Linked DNA regions of Homo sapiens. The protein of the gene in region 2 interacts with the protein of the main gene of each other region in a biochemical or structural test. Each region holds a gene or a part of one and is shown on either strand. Other genes may lie near its edges.

Evidence for each region.
Region 1: of the proteins of MAPKAPK2 (region 2) and HSPB1, one has a biochemical effect on the other in vitro, tested with the Homo sapiens proteins (17 studies listed by BioGRID and IntAct, with this or other methods).
Region 3: of the proteins of MAPKAPK2 (region 2) and ZFP36L1, one has a biochemical effect on the other in vitro, tested with the Homo sapiens proteins (2 studies listed by BioGRID).

Annotation. Positions count from the first base shown.
Region 1 is NC_000007.14:76,296,868-76,305,709, reverse strand, and holds HSPB1 (heat shock protein beta-1), read right to left. Parts: upstream 3,038-8,842; 5' UTR 2,998-3,037; coding exon 2,634-2,997; intron 1,909-2,633; coding exon 1,845-1,908; intron 1,727-1,844; coding exon 1,537-1,726; 3' UTR 1,418-1,536; downstream 1-1,417. UniProt on the Homo sapiens protein: Small heat shock protein which functions as a molecular chaperone probably maintaining denatured proteins in a folding-competent state. Plays a role in stress resistance and actin organization.
Region 2 is NC_000001.11:206,687,293-206,696,196, reverse strand, and holds part of MAPKAPK2 (MAP kinase-activated protein kinase 2), read right to left. Parts: intron 416-8,904; exon of another isoform or gene 1-415. UniProt on the Homo sapiens protein: Stress-activated serine/threonine-protein kinase involved in cytokine production, endocytosis, reorganization of the cytoskeleton, cell migration, cell cycle control, chromatin remodeling, DNA damage response and transcriptional regulation.
Region 3 is NC_000014.9:68,786,245-68,791,054, reverse strand, and holds the end of ZFP36L1 (mRNA decay activator protein ZFP36L1), read left to right. Parts: intron 1-562; coding exon 563-1,522; 3' UTR 1,523-3,393; downstream 3,394-4,810. UniProt on the Homo sapiens protein: Zinc-finger RNA-binding protein that destabilizes several cytoplasmic AU-rich element (ARE)-containing mRNA transcripts by promoting their poly(A) tail removal or deadenylation, and hence provide a mechanism for attenuating protein synthesis.

The DNA.
Region 1 (8,842 bases), on a different chromosome or scaffold from region 2:
GACTCTGGGTCCCTCAAATATTTGAGGACCTTGGGACTGAGCTCCAAAGCTCCCATCTGTTTTTTGTTTTTTTTTTTTAGATGGAGTTTTGCTCTTGTCCCCCAAGCTGGAGGGCAGTGGCATGGATCTTGGCTCACTGCAACTTCTGCCTCCTGGGTTCAAGCGATTCCCCTGCCTCAGCCTCCTGAGTAGCTGGAATTACAGGCATGCAACACCATGCCCGGCTAATTTTTGTACTTTTAGTAGAGACGGAGTTTCACTGTTGGCCAGGCTGTCTCGAACTCCTGTCCTCAGGTAATCCACCCGCCTCGGCCTCCCAAAGTGCTGGGATTATAGGTGTGAGCCACCGCGCCTGGTCCCCCATCTGCTTTCTACCTCAACTTTCCCTGGGCCTGGTGAGAGGGTGGCAGCTAGGGCAAGGGCAGACAAGAGAGAGGGGAACTGGGCCCTTGGAAGCCTGTCTACACCTGGAGGGAGGCCAGCTGGAAATAAACACAGGCAACAAGAGCTGCTGGCCCAGCCAGCAGCACAGGTCTGAGCCCGTCGGTTGGCCAGGGCTCTGCCCAATCTCCCCACCCCGAGACTCTGCGGGCTCCGTTCTCACCCCATTTCGGCTTGCCAGTTCCCTTGTGACTGCCAACAGGGATGCCCTGGCCTCAGGGAGTGTGGCGGTGACAGAGATCTCAAAGCTTGCCAGGTCCACTGTGGTGTCCTTGGGGTGTGCTGAAGCCGATGCCAAGCTTTTGACATAGTAATCCTCCCATCAGCTCTGAGGTGCAATTACCTCTGTGCCCCTTCACCTGGGACCCAACCTAGGTGCTCCTGAGAACTCAAGCCTCAGGTGCTTCTCTTATTTCCTCCTCCTTCCCCACCTTACAGTTTTAATTGCAATCGTGACCTTGCAATCATGACCTTTTTTTTTTTTCTTTTAAAGATGGGGTCTCACTCTTTCTCTCTGGGCTTTTGGTTGTTTTGAGACAGGATCTTGTTCTGTTGCCCAGGCTGGAGTGCAATGGCACGATGTTAGCTCACTGTACCCTTCACAACTCCTGGGCTCAAGCGATCCTCCTGCCTCAGCCTCCTGAGTAGCTGGGACTACAGGCGTGCAGTACCACCCTGCCTAATTTTTATTTTTTAGAGACAGTCTTACTATGTTGTCCAGGCTGGTCTAGAACTCTTGGCTTCAAGCACTCCTCCTGCTTCAACCCCCCAAAGTGCTGGGATTGTAGGTATGAGCCACTGCGCCCGGCCCTAAGACCTCTGTCTTTATGGATGTGAGTCAGCCTGTGTCCAGCAACCTACACCAGTGTACCCACATGGCCCAGCACGGGCCTGAGCAAAGATGACTCCTGAAAGCCAGCAAATGGCAGGTGCCTGAGGCTTCCTTCCACAAACACCAGGGCCTGGGCCAGTGACAGGTGGTTGCTTTGAACTTTATTTGAGAAAAACAGAAGATAAATGTATCAAAAGAACACACAGGTGGCGGGGGAGGCACAGCCAGTGGCGGCAGCAGGGGTGGGCATCCGGGCTAAGGCTTTACTTGGCGGCAGTCTCATCGGATTTTGCAGCTTCTGGGCCCCCAAGCTGGGCCCGCGACTCGAAGGTGACTGGGATGGTGATCTCGTTGGACTGCGTGGCTAGCTTGGGCATGGGGGCCTCCACGGTCAGTGTGCCCTCAGGGGACAGGGAGGAGGAAACTTGGGTGGGGTCCACACCGGGGGGCAGCCTGGACGTGCAGAGAGGAAAGGCAAGCGTTACATTACACACCGGGTGGGTCCCTGTGCCCTCTTCCCTGACCCCACCCCCACGCCACCCACCCACCCCGACCTGGCGCCAGGACTCACGTGTATTTCCGCGTGAAGCACCGGGAGATGTAGCCATGCTCGTCCTGCCGCTCCTCGTGCTTGCCTTTGGGGGGAAGAGGGAAATCAGACTGCGGGGGAGGGGACTGCCTTTCGGCCCCGCTAGGCCAGAGGCCCCACCTCCTGCTTGGAAGCAGCCAGGACTGCAGGCTGGTAGGGATTAACAGAGGGGGTTGGGGATGGGGGCGTGCCCGCCGGTCTGGGCTCTCAGAAACTTCCGGAAAGTTCTTCGATTCAGAGTTTTGGGAGGAACGGAGCAGGGCGCGGAGCTGGGGAGTGAGCAGTACGCAGGCGCACTTGGAGCCGCGCACACGCCCACTCAGCGGCTAGAAACTGGCACCGCGCCAGGGAACTCCCCGCTTATCTGGGGATGGGGCTGTGGGTGGGAAGGGGACTCTGTAGAAAAGCGCATTTTCTCTCTTCATCGATGATCTTTAAAAAAATTTTTGTTTGCTTTTTTTTTGTAATGGCGCGGGGTCGGGGCGGGGGGGCGCGTCTCGCTATGTTGCCCAGGCTAGTCTTGAACTCCTGGCCTCAAGCGATCCTCCCGTCTCGGCCTCCCAAAGCGCTGGGATTACAGAGCAGAAAGCGCCCTTAGAAGCGACCCGCACTCCCAATTCCTGAGCAAGGGAATCAGGAGTCCTGTTTTTCCCGGTGCTGGGCCAACGTTTAACTCCCCAGGCCCCCGGGACCCCCGTTTCAACCGCACGCCCCCGGCCCTGCCCGCCCTGCTAGCCTCCTCCTCTCCCCTGCAGGAGCAGGGGGGCTCACCGGTGATCTCCACCACGCCATCCTTGGTCTTGACCGTCAGCTCGTCCGGGGCGAAGTGGTTGACATCCAGGGACACGCGCCAGCGGTCCGCAGTGTGCCGGATCTCCGAGACCCCGCTGCTGAGTTGCCGGCTGAGCGCGCGGCTGTAGGCGGGCGCGGCCACTGCGGGGCTCTCGATGGCGGCGGGGGGCAGGGGGCGCACGTAGCCTGGCCAGCTGCTGCCGCCTAACCACTGCGACCACTCCTCCGGCAGCCGGGGCAGCCCGAAGGCCTGGTCGAAGAGGCGGCTATGCGGGTACCAGTCGCGGAAGGGGTCCCAGCTGGGGCCCCGCAGGAGCGAGAAGGGGACGCGGCGCTCGGTCATGCTGGCTGACTCTGCTCTGGACGTCTGCTCAGAAAAGTGCGGGGCGCTGGGCTCGGCTGCGCTTTTATGCTCCTCCAGTCGGGTATTTTTAGCAGGCGGTGTTTGAGGTCTCTATTAATGGCAATGACCCGTTTGAGGGCCGCCCCTCCCCATGCACTCCTCCCCCAGCGTTCAGGGGCCGTGGGCGGGGCGAAGAGGGTTCAGCCCTCATCTGGAACCTTCTCTCGTTAAGGAAAGCAAATGAATTCGAGAGCGCGACGCTGGAGCCGTGCCACGGCAGGGCACTCGCCGGCCCTGGTGCTTAAGCGTTGCTGGCTGTGGCCCGTGGCCAGGGCCGTCCTTCTGTTAAGGAGGACAGAGCCAGACAGGTTGGGTTGGGGCATACAACTGAGAAGTGGCAGAGGCAGGATTGGAACCACACGCGTGTGAGATAGAATGTGATAAAAGGAGTCTGGTGCTTGAGCCCAGGAGTTGAGGCTGCAGTGAGCTATGATCTCACCACTGCACTCCAGCCTAGGCAACAGATCAAAGTCTTGTCTCTCAAAAAAATTTTAAAAAGGGGCTGGGTGCATGGCTCATGCCTGTAATCTCAGCACTTTGGGAGGCCAAGGCAGAAGGGTCCCTTGAGGCTAGGAGTTTGAGACCAGTCTGGGCAACATAGTGAGACCCTACTTCTACCAAAAAATATTTAAAAATTAGCTGGGCATGGTGGTGCATGCCTGTGGCCCCAGCTACTCCAGAGGCTGAAGCAGGAGGATCCTTTGAACCCCGGTGAGTAGAGGCTGTGGTGAGCTGGATTGCACCACTGCACTTCAGCCTGGGCTACAGAGCAAAACCCTGTCTCAAAATAAGTAAATGAATAAATACAAATACAAAAATAAAGCAGTCTGGGCTGGGCGTGGTGGCTCACGCCTGTAATCCCAGCACTTTGGGAGACCGAGGTGGGAGGATCACCAGAGGTCAGGAGTTTGAGACCAGCCTGGCCAACATGGTGAAACCCCATCTCTACTAAAAATACAAAAATTAGCTGGGTGTGGTGGCGGGCGCCTGTAATCGCAGCTGCTGGGGAGGCTGAGGCAGGAGAATTGCTTGAACCCAGAAGGCAGAGGTTGCAGTGAGCCGAGATCTCACCACTGTACTCCAGCCTGGGTGACAGAGTGAGACTCCATCTCAAAAAAAAAAAAAGAAAAAAGAAAAAAGCAATCTAGTAATCTGGTGTGGTTGTTAGGCGTGTGGACTTTGAAGCCAGACTGCCTGAATTCACATCTTTGTTCCATCACTAAGCAGATGAACTTGTGCAAGTTAGATTCTTTGTGCCTCAGTTTCCCCATCTGGAAAATAGAGATGATAATGATGGTAACAGTCATGCATTGCATAAAGATGTGTAAGTCAGCAAGGGACAGCAAATATGAAGGTGGTCCCATAAAATTATATTACTGGCTGGGTGCAGTGGCTGACATCTGTAATCTTAGCACTTTGGGAGGCTGATGTGGGAGGATTACTTGAAGCCAGAAGGCTGGAACAAGCCTGGGCAACACAGTGAGACCCCATCTCTACTAAAATTCAGAACAAATTAGCCAGGCATGGTGGCGTGGACCTGTAGTCCCAGATACTCAGGAGGCTGAGGTGGGAGGAGCACTTGAGCCAAGGAGGTCGAGGCTGCAGTGAGCCTGATGGTGCCACTGCACTCCAGTCCGCATGACAGAACAAGACCCTGTCTCAAAACAAACAAACAAAAACAATTACCGTGTTTTTACTGTACATCTTCTATGTTTTATTTATTTATTTATTTATTTATTTTGAGATGGAGTCTCCCTCTGTCGCCCAGGCTGGAGTGCAGTGGCCTGATCTAGGCTCACTCCAACCTCTACCTCCCAGGTTCAAGTGATTCTTCTGCCTCAGCCTCCTGAGTAGCTGGGACTACAGGCAAGTGCCGCGACACTGGCTAATTTTTGTATTTTTAGTACAGATGGGGTTTCACCATGTTCGCCAGGCTGGTCTTGAACTCCTGACCTCAAGTAATCCACCCGCCTGGGCCTCCCAAAGTGCTAGGATTACAGGCGTGAGCCACCGCGCCTGGCCATCTTCTATCTTTAGAAACACTAATACTTACCCTCATGTTGCAGCTGCCTTCAATATTTGGTGCAGTCATATGCTGTAGAGGTTTGTAGCCTAGGAGCAGTAGGCTAGACCATATGGCTTAGGTGTGTAGTAGGCTAGACCATCTAGGTTTGTGTAAGTCCACTCTGAGATGTTCCCACAATGATGAAATTGCCTAACAAGGAATTTGTTGAATGTGTCTGTTATTAAGTGACTCATGACTGTAATGGGTTGGCCTGAGGATTTGGTGACCTAATGCAGGTGATGACTTTGGCCCGGAGCCTGGTACATCATAATTATTGTTACCTGCCTGGGATTGAAGAGAGGGAAAAGGAAGGAGAATACATGGGGTTTGGCCATTTTCCCCCTTCCCCTAACAGCGCAGCTGGCCCAGATCAGAACCTCCATGGCACAGTGCTGAGAGGGGCCAGGAGGAAGATTACTGTCACATCTCCTACTATATGTATCTTTCCTTAAGAAGCACTGGTTGGCCGGGCGTGGTGGCTCCCACCTGTAATCCCAGCACTTTGAGAGTCTGAGGCAGACTTATTGCCTGGGTTCAGGAGTTCAAGACCAGCCTGGCCAACATGCCGAAACCCCGTGTCTGCCAAAAATACAAAAAATTAGCCAGGTGTGATGGGTGCCTGTAATCCCGGCTACTGGGGAAGCTGAGGCACGAGGATCATTCCAGGAGGCAGAGGTTGCGGGGAGCTGAGATCGCGCCACTGCACTCCAGCCTCGGTGACAGAACGAGACTCTGTCTCAAACAAAAAAGAAAAAACAAAAAAGAAAAAGAAACACTGGCCAGGAACCTCAAATGCCGCAAACTTGAATTAGTCTGGACTTCCTGTGTCATTCTGGGCAAATCCCCTCCTTTCTCTAGGCCTCAGTTTCCCTTTCTGCAGATTTTGATGCCCACATCACAGAGGGAGAGGGGAGCTCCAAGTAGTAGAGTCTGCACAGAAGTGCTTAGAGCCTGGAGCTTGCCCCTTGACCCTACCTCATCCATCTAAACACCAATGGGATCCTGGCTCCTATCTCCCAGCTTGGAGGGAGGGTGCTGCCCTAGGCTCCTGCCACAACCCTGACATTCCCTCTTTCCTGTCTTTGTAGGCATGGCCATTCCAGCCTTCCTTCTCCCCTGACTTAGGTCCCTGTTTTAGTTGTTGTTGTTTTTTTTTTTTTTGTCTTTTTTTTTTTTTTTTTTTTGAGCCAGAGTCTCACTCTATCACTCAGGCTGGAGTGCAGTGGCGCAATCTCAGCTCACTGCAACCTCCGCCTCCTGGGTTCAAGCGATCCTCCTGCCTCAGACTCCCAAGTGGCTGGGATTACAGGCATGTGCCACCATACCCGGCTAATTTCTGTATTTTTAGTAGAAACGGGGTTTCGCCATGTTGGTCTCAAACTCCTGACCTCAAGTGAGCCGCCTGCCTTGGCCTCCCAAAGTGCTGGGATTACAGGCATGAGCCACCACACCCGGCTAATTTTTGTATTTTTAGTAGAAACAGGGTTTCGCCATGTTGGTCTCAAACTCCTGACCTCAAGTCAGCCACCTGTCTCGGCCTCCCAAAGTGCTGGGATTACAGGTGTGAGCCACCGCACCCGGCCCTGTTATCCCTGGTTTTTAGACAAGGAAACTGCTGTGCACAGAGATTAAATGGCTTTCTGCTGTCTCCGGTAAAGTGCTCTCAGAGCCAACCTCCTGCCTCTCTAGTACCCAGGGCCTCCCACTTCTTCTGTCCCACTGTACTTGCTGTCCCTATCCTGGGACTGAGGCTCCACTCCTCCTACTTCTATGGGGAGCCAAGGCCACTGAAGTCTTGCCCTGCCCAGGCCCAGAATCGGGGCAGACTCCAGGCCACTCACCTTGATGAGCTGGGGAAGCAGCAAGTCCTCATGCCTTCTCTGAGCCTCAGTTTCCTTTTTGAGAGAGAGCTCATAAATGCCTTTCTCTCTCTCCTTTTTTTTTTTTTTTTTTGTTGAGACAGAGTCTCGCTGTGTTGCCCAGGCTGGAGTGCAGTGGAGTGATCATAGCTCATTGCAGTCTTGACCTCCTGGGCTCAAGTGATTCTTCTGCTTCAGCCTCCTGAGTCACTGGGACTACAGATGTGTGCCACCACACTTGGCTAATTTTTAAATTTTTTGTAGAGACAGGTGTCGCACCATGTTGCCCAGACTAGTCTTGAACTCCTGGCCCCAAGAGATCTTTCTGCCTAGGCCTCCCAAAGCACTGGGATCACAGGCGTGAGCCACTGCGCCCGACCTAGATGCCTTTCTTTCTTTCTTTTTTTTTTTGAGACGGAGTCTCACTCTGTCACCCAGGCTGGAGTGCAGTGGTGCGATCTTGGCTCACTGCAAGCTCCGCCTCCCGGGTTCACGCCATTCTCCTGCCTCAGCCTCCAGAGTAGCTGGGACTACAGGCGCCCACCACCACGCCCGGCTAATTTTTTGTATTGTTTTTTTTTTTTTTTTAGTAGAGACAGGGTTTCACTGTGTTAGTCAGGATGGTCTTGATCTCCTGGCCTCGTGATCCACCTGCCTCGCCTCCCAGAGTGCTGGGATTACAGGTGTGAGCCACCGGCCCTAGATGCCTTTCTGTCTTACCCACCTGCTCCCCATCAGGGAAGAGCTGGGGCTGGACCATGAATCTGAGATCACTCCTGGAAAGGCCTCTGAACTCCTGGGGCTCTCGGGAGCCAATGGTGGGAGGCAGACAGGACCCCTGCCTTCTACCTCACCTCCCTGGCTGGGTCATTGTCATGAGCCCAGTGGGTCTCATTTGGGAGCTCCTGGTTGACACCCCATGGGACAGCATCAGAAAGCCCCAGGTTTTTGCTCCCCAGTGCTCCCAGCCCCACCCATCCCCAGCTGTATAAAGTCGAGGTGAGGTCAGGAGCCAGGGAGGGCCCTCATCTGCCTCTGCCTGCTCACCTTGGCCCAGACGGGAGCTGGGGGTGCCCCACCCCAGAGGGAGCTGTCAGGTGTGGTTATAAATGCTTCCAGGTGTGGCTCTATCAGGCCCAGCCATGCTCTGGATGGGAGCTGCCAGCCCTTTGTAGACACAAGCTCCCTTCATCTTGCCTGAAACCAGGACGGACTGGATCTATTCCTGCTGCCTGAGAGATTGTGCAACTCAAGGCACCAAACCCACACACTCTGCTCACTCCCTCGGAATTCACGTTCATCTTCAAGGGCTCAGTTTTGTTTTTTTTGAGATGGAGTTTTGCTCTGTTGCGCCGGCTGGAGTGCAGTGGCACAATCTCAGCTCACTACAACCTCTGCTTCCCAGGTTCAAGCAATTCTCCTGCCTCCTGAGTAGGTGGGACTACGGGCGTGCACCACCACGGGCTGGGCGCGGTGGCTAACAGCTGTAATCCCAACACGTTGGGAGGCCGAAGTGGGTGGATTGCTTGAGGTCAGGAGTTCAAGACCAGCCTGGCTAAGGGCTCAGTTCTTGAGGGACGACTTTTAGATCACCCACAAGGGAGAGGAGATGGGTGGTTTCTGGCAGCATGGGGGTGAGGTGGGTGGTAGGGCAGAAACTGGGTTTTGGGGACAGATAGGGCTGGGCTTGAATGTGGGTGCTGCTGTCCTGGTGACCACTCTGAGCCCACATGTCCCTATTTGCAAAGTAGAGCTAGCAACGCCCCTGCCCGTCTGACAGCATTGTGGTCAGTTTCAAGTGCGTGAATGTGTGTAAAGTGCTCGGTGCACAGTAAGCGCTCACGGTGACTGCGAGGGCCTT
Region 2 (8,904 bases):
AGAATGTATTTGGTGTCTGCCATATCTTTGCATCCTTCAATGACACTTTTGTCCATGTCACTGATCTTTCTGGCAAAGAAATCATCTGCCGTGTGACTGGTAGGATGAAGGTGAAGGCAGGTGAGATGAATCCTCACCACATGCTGCTATGTTGGCTGCCCGGGATGTGGCCCAGAGCTGGGTATCACTGCCCTACACATCGAACTCCGAGCCATAGGAGGAAGTAGAACCAAGACCCCTGGACCTGGGGCCCAGGTGGCCCTCAGGGCCCTTGCCCGCTCAGGTATGAAGATCGGACAGATTGAGGACGTCACTCCCAACCCCTCTGACAGCACCCGCAGGAAGGGGGGTTGCCATGGTCACTGTGCACAGGACTCCTCAAATATTTTCCGTTAATAAATTACCTTCCTGTTAAAAAAAAAAAGAGAGAGAGAGAGAGATGCCTTGCACATGGAGAAATGCACTTAAACAGAGAAATAAAAGGTAAGAGTGTATCAGCAAGTTTGATGGGGAAGGATGGGAAGACCCACTTTTGGTGCGAAAGGCTCTGGAAAAGCAGCATCTGTGCAGGGTGGAAAAGGTAGATATAGACAGGACGGGGGACAGGCATGGTACAGAGAAGATGCAGATGGATAGATGCTAAGGTGTGGGGGTGGAAAGCACAGTTCTGTTAAAGAAACAACATATATAAGCCACTTAAGCTGGGGAGAAAAAAAAAGCATGTGTTCCAAAAAAAAAAAAAAAAACAGATCAGGGCCAGATCTGGGAAAGATGTGGATATCTCATGTATTCTGCAGGCAGAGAGACCCACTGAAGGGCTTAAGCTGGGAAGCTACATGATCAGAGCTGGGCTCTGGGCAAACTAATCCCCCACTGCACGCCGAAGAATCATGGGGGCAAGACCTTCCTTCCATAGCTGAGGGTTCTCAGAGTTAGCCACATGTTTCAACCACCCATCCCACCCCCTACTACTCTCTATTCCTTCTCTCTCTGGTTACACCTCAAACCTAATTTTATTTTCTTTTAAAGTATCCGAGCCCAGGTAGCCAAATCAAATGCATAAAGTCAGGAAAGTCTGAGACCCAGGAGAGGGGGCACTGCCACCCTTCCTCCTCCTCTCTGTGAGCACAGGTCACTAAAGCACATCAGGGGAAGAGAACACAAAGGGTATGAAGTCACTAAGAGTCGCAGGTGGGCTCTGCTGGAAAGGACATGATGCTCGTGAGCCTGGCAGTCAGAGGGAATGACAGCACTTGGCGTGTCTGCAAGCGCAAGTGTTTCCAGGGCAGGTTACTACATATGCTCATTTTCTCCCTGTGGCCTCCCCATCTGCCAGAGATCTGGGTGCCTGTAAGGATGTAGAAGGTATGGGATGACCCCTTGCTGGGCTGTCCAACTCAGCTGTGCAGCCAGGCTGCTCTGAGCTGCAGGGCACATGCAGCCTCCTCATCAGGTCACCTGCATTCCTAGAATTCTCCAAGTTCCAGACACACGGCCTTTAGTGTCCAGGGCTCTCCCCGCAGGACCCTTTGAGCTCTGCAGAAGCCAAGCATGACGAGCAACCTGCAGATTCCTCACTTAGAGAAGCTAGCCTTCTCCAGCTCCCGTGAAGCCTGGCCTTTAGAATCCTACTAACCTTCTTCTAGGAATCACAGAAGCCAAGGAAGGCAGTCGGGATAGGGAAAGACAGAGGGTATGGCTATTCTGAGGACAGGGGCTCCTTCTGTCAGAGTTAAAAATAAACACTTAGCAACTATGCCCAACTCTTCCTCTGCACAGGCCAATGGGCCTTGGCAGATAAATCTTTCCTTGCAGAGGAAATGTGGCCCCAGGGGAGAGGTGGGAGAAGGAGGCCATCGACACATGGTCAGAGTATGTAACTCTAGCTGAAGGCAGTGGGTTCCTCAAGTCCTATGTCTTGGTTGTCATTGCCATCACTCTCCACCATACACCCCTTCCCCCAAATAAACCATAATTCCTGAAAGCAGACATAGAGCCCTCCTAGGCCACGATTAGTATCAACACCTGTCTAGGGATTAGAAAAAATCAGAAAGAATACTAACGCCACGCTGAAGAACAGAATGCCAATGTCAGACTCTGCCCAGTATCTATCAGCTAAGCAAATATTCTAGCTACCTGAGCCCCTTTCCTCATCTTGCTCCACAAGTCTCCAGGATCCCTGGGGAGTAGAGGAAGAGGCCACACCTCCATGGACACACATCAATACTGCAGTCAAGAGGTAGAAGAAACCCATGCACTCGGTGACATTCTGCATGTGGCTGAGCTGGAAGGGCCAGAGGTGCCATGGCCTGACTCAGGAAGGAGATCCTGAGAGCCAGGGCCCAGTTATTCTTGGACGCTGACAAGATGAGGTCACACTTTTGAATGTGGTAGCCCAAAGCCTCACACTGCGGAGGTGGAGAATATAACGTAGCAACAGGGCAGGAGTACACGGTAGGTAGCATGCTCGGTGACAGGGCAGTCGGGTTGAAGGCCTGGGGCAGACTGCCCATGTGGGGCTGTCCTAGCATATAACTATGGTAACTCTGTTACCATAACCAGGTAACTCTGGCAAAGAGGCCTGCTTGGAGGTAAAACTGGAGGAAGCCAGGGCTGGAGGCGAGCACAGTAGAAGGTCTGATCCACTCTGATGAGCTTGGTCACTCTCCTTTTTGTCTAACCCTTTCCCTACTGGGAAATAAGCAGGACAGCTTCACGGAGCTTTCATACACACAAATCTAGACACCTGGAGACATAAAAACCATAGCACGTCTCCCAGCACTCAGAAGAGTGAGTTAGCCCCAAATCACCTACCAAGCTCAGGCTGGAAGAGAAAGGGGCAAGCAGGGAGAATATCAGCAGAAAGTGAGAGAAACAGGTCAGCGGTGTGGCAGGAAGCACTGGGACAGCTAACAGGGCCTGGCTGTGAGGGGAGACTGCAGCAGTGGCAGGTTTATTTTTAGCTGTTCGGCAGAGGGGCTGAGTAACAGTTCTGGGCCCTGGGCAGGAGGCCAGGCTGCTAAGGTCCGGTGTGTACTGAGAGCCTCCTAACAATGTGGATCATTAAAATGGCAGCAAACGAACAACTCGATCTTCTCCCTGTAGACAAGCAGGAGGATAAGGAGCCCCGCCGGAGGACGAAAGTGGAGGAGTCGGCAGGGGGACAGTCAGTAGATCTCCTGTTCAGCCCCTCCCCTCAGAGAGACTTCACCTTTGCTTCTGGTTCAAAAGAATCTTCATGGAGATGAGCCAGAGAGAAGGCATCAACAGTACAGCTCCCTCAGCTCCCTCATATGCTCTGAAACAGAAAAGGCTCCCATCGGGTGGCCACTAGCTTCCGCCTCTGGCCACCACTCTTCACCTCTAAGATGAGTCCTGGATGGACACTGGCCACAGAGATGCTTGGAAACGTCCCTCAAGAATAAGATGCCCTTTCATATGACCCTTTTGGAGGGCTCAGGTTCCCAGCAGAATGAGCGCACAGCTTGGCTGGTCTTGGAGGAGAACACCAGATACAAATATGGGCTGACCTTGGGGCCTTGTCCCAGCTCATTCTGGCACACAGAGGTGTTTACTGATCAGACAATAAAGACCCCAAGAACCTTTCACTGCCAGAGGCCCAGCCCAACTTTATGTCTCCTTCTACTGTGGCTTTCTTCCTCCTCCCACCAAACCTGATGGCCCAGCACACAGGACCCCACAGTCTAAACCTCCGGGGCTGAAACAGCTGCTCTAGCCTTGCATGGGCAGGAAGAGGAGGAAAGAGAACAGACATCACCAGGCAACCCCTTTTCCTCCTGCTTCCTTGGATTCCTGATATCTCTTCTTACTCAGCCTGGTCTGAGGGGCTGAGGGTCACCTGAATGTAAATCCTAATTTCCTCATCAGCTCTGTGAATCAGTCCCCAACTCTAACCTAAGAACAACCCCTAATCCATAACCATACCTTTGGTGAATTAGAAGGCACTCCTTTGAAAGAACCCAGCCACACACAAAGACAAAGCCAAGCAAGGAGACAGTGGCTGGACTTCAGCCTTCGCTTAGCTCCTCAACCAGATCCCTGTGCACAGGGAACAGCCTGCACCAGAAATCACAGTGGCCCTCAAATGCCCCATAACTTGAGAAAGGAATCTCAAACAGGGAATAGAGTTCCTCATCTCTACTTTGCACCACCACTACACTATGATTCTTCTGATTTTAAGGAAAGAGAAGATGCACACCCTGCTAAATTACGTAGTCTATCCTCTCTGCCGAGTCACCAGCATAGAACACTTTCTAAGTCTTCACACAAGAGAAGGAGCAGCTGGTCAGTGATGATTATTCATTAACTGGACACAGGCTGCCCTGGAGCCAGGCACTAAGCTTACGAAAGGGCATCTGTGCTGACCCAGATACTGCTGATGGTCAGACCCGGAGCAAGTCAGCAAGCTATCCTGCCTGCCCTCCACCTCTGGCCTGCAGCACCGCCTTCTACTGCCTCACCCTGCCGGTGCTCAGGAGCTGCTCGAGCCGACCCTCTGTGCAATGAGGCCTGGAAAGTTTAGCTGACCTATTCAAGGTCATGTAACTTGTTAGCAGCATACAAACACTGGAAGCTTTCTATTTATGTATGCACTTATTTTTGCTTTCTTATCTAGCACATAACCCATGGTAACAAGCTCATCTCTACATATCTATATCTGTGTATGTGTGTATATATATATATATATATATATCTTAAAATACAAAATACCAGTATTTTCCTAAAAACTAGAAAAGGTACACAGCAATCTGATTTGGGTTCTATAACTGCCATACGTTATTACACTGTCCAGTGACATGGCCCCTTCTCTTCACCAATGCCCCCATTTACAAGGTAACCCATGTGGAAAGATCCTAGCTGATGCGTTAGTGGAGCTCAGTTTTGCTCCACCAGGTCTACAGTCTTCTAGCAACCAAAAACCAAAGGGGCCCAGACCAAGAGCAGGTCCCAGGGAACCAGGTCTCAAGATGTGGCTCGGATGCTGACACCATGTAAGACCTTGGACATGCCACTGAACATTTCTGCACTAGGCCAGCTTCTTCCTCAGTGATGTGCAAGGAGTCAAGAAAGATGACCAGGGAGTGTGGGTTCTAAGTTACTATGAAGTGTGGGTTGCTTTGCCACTGGGCCTCAAACCATTACCAAGAAAAGCTGCAGTCCCTGCAAAGAACAACTCTTCTCTGCCCATCCACCTCCCTCCAGGACACAGAACCATCTGGAAAGATACAGTGCAGGGAAGAGGGGGAAAAGAGACCTCACATGACACTTGGCAGGGCCTGAAGTAGAGGAAAGGTAGGAGAATAGAGTGAATCCTGCACCACAGACATCACGCCACCAGGAAGAACCCCAGCTCAGAGCATGGCAAGGCTGCTTGGGAACTGGGCAATGGCTCAGATGCAGACGACTGTGCCCTGCTCTTCCCCATCTTGGCTGACATTCCTCCTGGCACCCACTCAGCACACTCCTGGGCTCTGGCTAACAGGAGCTTTGGCCCCTCCCCTAGCCCAAGGATTAAGTTTGCCTCCAGCAGTTCTGAGGCTGGGCTCTTCCAGGCCCTCCTCCCAATCCCCTGTACCTGCTTCATAAGAAAAATCATCAATTATGGATGGCCCAACCTCTCAGGTCCCAAGTAGCAGAAACATCACAGGTCCCAATACCTTCCTCCTCCCACAAAGGGGTTCTTTTGTTTCCTAGACACCCACCAATATTTGGCCCTAAGGCCCAGGGACTGCTTGTCTCTCCCCTCCTGTCAGCCACTGATCCCGTATCTTAGCTGGAGATTGTCTCCAAGCTCAGTCAAAGCCCAGAATTCACAAGTAAAAAAGGACAGTGAGCTGACCCAGCTTCAATCTTGCCTCAGTGGATGCCAAGGGCCCTGCTGCAGGAGCCAGGGGTCAGGGCTGGGGTCAGGGCTACGGCCAGGAGGGACAGGATCTCTGAAACCACAAACCTGACCCTTCCCTCATAATTCTGTAAGCCCATCTTCAATGATTCCTAACCTTTTTTGACACCTTCATGCCCCTCAAACACTTTAAAGCCTGCTTTGACACAAGATGAGTTAGCTTCAATTTGGAGCCACCAACCCCTGACCACTCTGACCTCCTGTTCCTCCCCTCAGTTCTAGCCAGGCCAATGTCACCACACCTCTCACAGACTTGCTCACTCCTCAGAGGCACAGCCATGTCCCACTGACCCCAGCTGGAGCCTCCCTTAGCTCCTGGAGTCACCACAGATTCCCCTCTTTCAAAGCTCCTCTATTCCCAGCCACACGATTTAGCTCCCAGACCAACAAAGTCTAGGAGAACGTTCTGCAAGGATGAAAATGTTCTTCTGCATTGTTCAATTCGATAGCCATTAGCCACATGTTTACTGAACACTTGAAGTGTGGCTAGCAACTGATTTTTCAAATTTAATTTAGTTTAATCCATTCATGTTAATTAATTTTAATTTAATTAGCTATGTGAGGGTAGTGGCTACCAGATTGGACAGTGCAGCCCTAGCCTACATGTGTTAATTTCACCTTCTCTAAATAAGTTTCTTGACTCAAAATTTTACAGGCCATTTTTTACATGTGTATCCTCCATGCAACTAAGCTTATGATAGATATTCAGCAAACTGTTACCTACCTGTAACCATATTGCATATAAAAGAGGCTGGCTTGGTCAATGAAATTTTCCTAACCTTGTGACAACTCCAGCAAACTCCAGTTTGGGACACTGCCTCTCACCTAGCCACACTAACTGTCTTGCCCTCCACAGGTACACAGTATGAGGTGTGTTGGAAAGGAGATGGTGCCTGTACTGTGGGGATGTGGGAGCTCTGGCATTTCCCTCCAACAGCATCCAGAATAATCATGAGAGGCTCCAATCATCTCCCCTTCACCAGAACAAAGGAAGCCACATCGCAGTGGCACTTCCATGACCTAGGGAGAGAGGAATGCTGGAGAAAGGAAAGGAAAAGAAACTACAGGACCTTGTTTTCTCTAATCCACGCAATGGAAAGATACACAGAGATAAGTTACGACAACATTCTATATTTTATAAAGCAGTAACATGCTTCACCTAATCAGAGTTGCACAGCAGAGAACAACGATACAGTCTTTAATTAAATTTGTTGAGCTAACACCTAAGGGTCACCATGACACAGTGAAGCGGCAAGCAGCTGAGGAACCCTCCCGGGGAATACAACTAATTAATACACAAGTGGGTTGAGACTAGGTGTCCTTATCAAAGAAGTAATACAGGCCGGGCGCGGTAGCTCACACCTGTAATCCCAGCACTTAGGCAGGCTGAGGCAGGCAGATCACGAGGTCAGGAGATCAAGACCATCCTGAATAACACAGTGAAACCCCATCTCTACTAAAAATACAAAAAATTAGCCGGGCATGGTGACGGGCGCCTGTAGTCCCAGCTACTCAGGAGGCTGAGGCAGAATGGCGTGGACCTGGGAAGCAGAGCTTGCAGTGAGCCAAGATCGTGCTACTGCACTCTAACCTGGGCGACAGAGCAACACTCTGTCTCAAAAAAAATAAAAATAAAAATAATAGAATTCCCATGTTCTTGTACAAAAAATAGTAAGTAAGGTGCCTATCAAATACTCTCTTAAAAGGGGGAGGGAGTGGTTAAAAAAATGCATGAAGCTACTGTTGAAGTTCCCCTCCAACTTTGGGGACTGTTCTCAGGAGCAGCAAATACCCATCCAGCCCCCTTCGCTGACCTCCCCTCTTGTCAGTCAGGGCCTGAGGTGACAGAACAGCTCCTCAGGCTGGAAGCACCCTGGAGCAGCAGGTGGCCATGTGCCTGAGCCCGTGGCTCAGTTAGGAAGTAAGTGGGAAGAAGCCTGAGACTGGGAGTCAGGCAACCTGGGTTCCAATCCTGCCTCTGCCAAGTGAATGGCTATGGTACCTTGAACAAGTCACTCCCTCACTCTGGGCCTTGGTTTTCTCTTCTGCAAAATAAGGGGGCTGGACAAAATGACCTTTCAAGTCCCTTGCAACTCTGACTGGAAGCATGACTCAGAACTTAGCAAAAGCAGCCAGGAGAGATGGTGAGGTGAGGTCAAAGCACCCACCAAAAGCATTTAAATGGGAGCTCTCTGAGGTGGAGGGAGAGAAGCAGCAGGGTGAGCTGGGACTCTTTTTCAAATGCTGATTTCACTTAACAGGGCTAAGAGGTCACCGACTATAGGCAGAGAGGAGAGCATCTAAGCAGCTGCCAGCTCCCATCAACTCTCAGGGCTGCAACATAGCAGACTTCTGAACCCCAGCAGAGGCTGGGCTCCTGCCCTCCAGCTCTGCCCTAGCCCCCAGCATTGGCCTCGGCACACTGTAGAATAGAGGTCTCCTCCCCTTTTCTCAGGCACCTTCCCAAGGGGGTAATCCCTCTTGCCCCACTCCATCTTCCTCTCCTGCTTTATAATCACTAGACTTCTGGTTTTGAAAACCATTTCACTACTCAGCACCTGAGGTTAATCAAAATTCAAGATCTAGAAATCTCTTTGGTGTGTGTCTCTGGAACAGCGTTCTTTGAACCAGATTCCCCCCACAGCTGTAATTATGTCTCAGCCAATATTTGGATATGGAAGTGCTGTTAACACTGCTGTCAGTCTCCAAATGCCTTGTCTCTCCTTTCTTCCTCCATTATTAAGTTTTAACACAAAGACGTGTGTGGGAAATCCACAATTTAACAGTTGAGTCAACTTAAAAGATCTGGGAGCAGGCTGCCTGTCAAAACAGACTGACTTCACTCTTCGCCCACTTCTAACCTGAGAGGGATAAACTATGAGTGTTATTTAACACGCTGCTGGATTTTTCCTTCCAAAACTATTCAAAGTAGAAAAATATGTAAACCTCTCTCTCGTTAGTTACAAGAGAAATCTGAATTG
Region 3 (4,810 bases), on a different chromosome or scaffold from region 2:
AAGGCAGTCTGAAAACCTGTTGCCAAAGGAAGGGAACACTTCTGAAGGAGGAAGTTGAGAGTCTTAGGCCAGGTCTTGAAGGAGGGGGTATCAATTAAGCAGAGACTGATTGGAAGGGGACCTAACGTAGCCTATGATAGACTCCTTTCTGAGGTTTACCTGTTTTTGTCGCGGGCGGTGGCGGGGGCGGGGTGCGGTAATCTAGAGAGGTCTGGGTTGTGTGAGATATTTTGAGTTGAAGAATCTATTTGACTAGTAAAAAAGTTGAACTTTAAAGTGGTAGCTTTGGGGACAGAGGACATGGGGGTTGCATTGCAGGAGTCAGCATGGAGCAGGGTGCTTGTCACACAGTTTGGATCTTGTGGTTTCTTACGCATGGGGCCAAAATAAACCCAGGTGAATGGCCTATGGGAGGGAGAGAGGGAAGGGAGCTTGCTAGAGCCGAGGTAGAGATGAGTTCTTTGAGAAAGAGCGGGCGTTTGTGATTGTGTAGGGGGCTGCCCATAGTGGACATCCTGGTGGATGTCCTCTGTCCTTACCATCCTTTCTCTTCTCTCTCCAGGGTAACAAGATGCTCAACTATAGTGCTCCCAGTGCAGGGGGTTGCCTGCTGGACAGAAAGGCAGTGGGCACCCCTGCTGGTGGGGGCTTCCCTCGGAGGCACTCAGTCACCCTGCCCAGCTCCAAGTTCCACCAGAACCAGCTCCTCAGCAGCCTCAAGGGTGAGCCAGCCCCCGCTCTGAGCTCGCGAGACAGCCGCTTCCGAGACCGCTCCTTCTCGGAAGGGGGCGAGCGGCTGCTGCCCACCCAGAAGCAGCCCGGGGGCGGCCAGGTCAACTCCAGCCGCTACAAGACGGAGCTGTGCCGCCCCTTTGAGGAAAACGGTGCCTGTAAGTACGGGGACAAGTGCCAGTTCGCACACGGCATCCACGAGCTCCGCAGCCTGACCCGCCACCCCAAGTACAAGACGGAGCTGTGCCGCACCTTCCACACCATCGGCTTTTGCCCCTACGGGCCCCGCTGCCACTTCATCCACAACGCTGAAGAGCGCCGTGCCCTGGCCGGGGCCCGGGACCTCTCCGCTGACCGTCCCCGCCTCCAGCATAGCTTTAGCTTTGCTGGGTTTCCCAGTGCCGCTGCCACCGCCGCTGCCACCGGGCTGCTGGACAGCCCCACGTCCATCACCCCACCCCCTATTCTGAGCGCCGATGACCTCCTGGGCTCACCTACCCTGCCCGATGGCACCAATAACCCTTTTGCCTTCTCCAGCCAGGAGCTGGCAAGCCTCTTTGCCCCTAGCATGGGGCTGCCCGGGGGTGGCTCCCCGACCACCTTCCTCTTCCGGCCCATGTCCGAGTCCCCTCACATGTTTGACTCTCCCCCCAGCCCTCAGGATTCTCTCTCGGACCAGGAGGGCTACCTGAGCAGCTCCAGCAGCAGCCACAGTGGCTCAGACTCCCCGACCTTGGACAACTCAAGACGCCTGCCCATCTTCAGCAGACTTTCCATCTCAGATGACTAAGCCAGGGTAGGGAGGGACCTCCTGCCTACTCCAGCCCCTACCCTGCACCCACATCCCATACCCTCTTCTCCCTACCCATCCCATTCCCCACAGGCCCTACATTAACAAGGTTAAGCTCAACCCCTTTCCCCCAGCACCTCAGAATGTGCCCTCCCTCTCCCCCTCATAACCCCACCTAACATAAGGACAAGTCAATTTGTCAGTAGCTTCTTCTGGCTTGAAACCCCCTCCCTGGATTTTATAGCCCACTTACCATGCATAACAGACAAGTCCCATATTTTGTCAGTAGATGCCTTTTTTTTTCCGGCTTAAGCCTTAAGTGCCAAATCACAAGAGAAAAAGCAGTAACAGTTTACAGAAGCAACTTAGTGCCTTGTAATCTAACTTTGTCACTGTGACTACATTACCTCTTCAGCGCCAGAGGGCACCCGTGGGCCTCCCGGAGCCTCTGCCCATGGCGGGGTGGAGACCCGGAACCAGCAGCCCCCTCCACTGGCGACACAACTGCACCTTCCCTCATTTCAGTCTCCCGCACACTTATTCCTCCTCCCCTCTTCCCGGTGGCACCTCTCCACCTGTACCCGCCCCCCCACCCCCCCCACCCCTGCCCCTTGGAAGAGTTGTTGCCAGACCAGGGTTTTGGGGGAAACCTGTCTTGACATTCAAAACCTTTTTCTTCCCGATCTGAACCCCTGTTGACTAATCTTGCCTGGGTTTGTGTAGGTCTGCAGGAAGGAAGGCTGAAAAAGCGGACGAAGATTTTGACTTAAGTGGGACTTTGTGATTTAATTTTTTCTTTTTTTTAAGTGGGGAGGAAGGGGAAGCTAGATGGACTAGGAGAGACTTGATTTTGGTGCTAAAGTTCCCCAGTTCATATGTGACATCTTTTTAAAAAAAATAACAACAAAAAAAAAATGAGAGAAAAGCTAAAAAAAAAAAAGTAAGGGGTGAGCAGTTAATGGTATTCATTCCACATACAATATCTGTGTAAAACGATTTCCTGTAGAAGTAGCTTTAATGGTTTTTGCTCTAGAATACCGTAGGTCTATCCTTAGAGCACTCACGCCATGCTTTCTTCCCTGGGTTTTAAACTTCATATAACTTTCAGAAATTGGAGAGCAAAAATTTTGCTTGTCACTGCACATCAATATAAAAAAGCTTATTTAACTTATCAAAACGTATTTATTGCCAAACTATGCTTTTTTTTGTTAATTTTGTTCATATTTATCGGGATGACAAATCCATAGAATATATTCTTTTATGTTAAATTATGATCTTCATATTAATCTTAAAATTTTGTGACGTGTCTTTTTCCTTTTTTTCCACAGTTTTAATATATTATTCTTCAACGACATTTTTTGTAACTTTACACTTTTTTGGTTATTTTATTTTAAAAAAATGAAAAATTAATTTAAAAAAATGCAAAAAACTGTTGGATTATTTATTTTAGAAATTCCCCCCTTTGTGTTGGACTGCAAATTGAGTTTCTTTCTCTTTAGGCCTTTCACAACTAGGACTGAGAATGTATGTAAAAGTTCTGTGACAGTACAGAAGGAAAACAACTTTTTATGTATAGCTTCTAAAAGGGGAAAAAAAAAAAAAGAGAAACCCTTTGACTTCCACGTGCCCATCTCAAGACATTCCACTCACAGATTTGAGGTTCTGGATTCCAGGTCTGGAGTTTTCCAATGTTAATGTAAACAGAACTGGCACACACACATTAAGATGAATGTAATTATTATTCCTCTTGCTGGTCACTACCGTCGCTTTCTATTTCTCTTTCTTTGTGTGAATTTATTTAAAAGAAAAAAAAACTTTTTGTAACGACTATTTGCAGTTTAAAAATCAATAAACCCCGTTTTTTCAAGAAACATTGATGGTGGAGCTGGTTTTACTTGGTTTTGGTTTGACTTTGCCAGTAAGGTTCTCCCCTTGTATACCTTGCAAGTCCTGGGTAGGGGGAGGCGGAGAGAGAGGGCTGTGGCTGTGGGTGGCGGCATCTCTCATCCCTATAAGCTAAGCCTATAGCTCCCTTCCTTGATGCTGGCAGTTTGCTGCGCTTAGAGGGGACGGGGTGGAGGTTTTCTGCAAAGGAGCCTGTACTTCCTGCTGTATTACTTCTGAAAAGACTGTGCAGTGTGTTAGTTGTTGGCTGAATAGCAGCGGGCCCAGCCTTGCCGACACTTGTGTGGCCTCTGCGGTTCTTCTGGGGAGCCAAGGCTCAGGGCCTTCCAGTCCGCCCCGTCCAGCCTGTGCTCTTCATTCCTTTGGATGGTGTTTGGGGTGCCAAAATGATAAAAGAGGACCTAGCACTTGGCACACTTGCAGGCTTGGATTTGAGTGAGTTCTTTTATTGGGGTGCCTTGGGCTCATTTTGCCCATAAGAAAGAAATTTACCTCAGTACTGGCCTCTCAACACCTACCCGTGTGGGGAGGGTATAAGGAAGCACTGCCTGCTTGGAGAGGAATGTCCAGCGGGGTGAGGGGCTCAGTCACAAGGAACTGGGAACTGGGACTGGATTTGACATAGCCTTTTGGGTTTGGAGGGCTGTTAAGGGGAAGTGAGTGTTAACACTGGCCAACACAACACAGCAAGTCACCAAGGGTTCCCACCACCTTAGTTACAATCTCAGGTGCTATGCAAAATTAGGTATGTCGTCATCTTGGGAAAGGTGGGGTCTCCTTGGCTAGATGCACCCCCACCAAGGCTAGATGACCACTTAAGAGGTGGCATTTCACCCGCCGGAGGAGTTGGAACTTTCACAAATCTTGAGTGTGAGCCTTGGGAGGATTTATTTGGGGAGAGGCAGAGATTGCTATTTGCAGCTCACTTGCCTTTGGTTCCTTTACACCCAGGAAGTTTTGGGAGTTCAGCTGAGTCACCATGATTCCACCAGGCCTCTTCCGAAGGTCTGCAGCAGACATTGGGCAGGCCAGGGATGTCCCTGAGACTCGAAGACCTACCTCTACTCTCAACTCATTTCCCTGGTCATCAGATATCTACTGGGGGTCAGGGGGTGAGGTAGAAAAATAGGGACTATTACCTGTTCCAGGGCAGGGGCTGGTGGTTTAGGAAGGGGAAAAGCAGCCCTTCTTAGGACTGGAGTAAACCTAGGCCTCTTGTCCCTTAAGGAGGAAATGAACTTTGTGTGTGTGTGGAGGTGGTGGTGGTGGTGGTTGGTGGTGGCATGTGATCTTCCTTTCGGAGTAAAAGCAAAAAAGACATTTAATCATTCACCTTGAGCTCATTCCCTGCAGGCATACCTGAGCATGTGGCAGACACCTTTC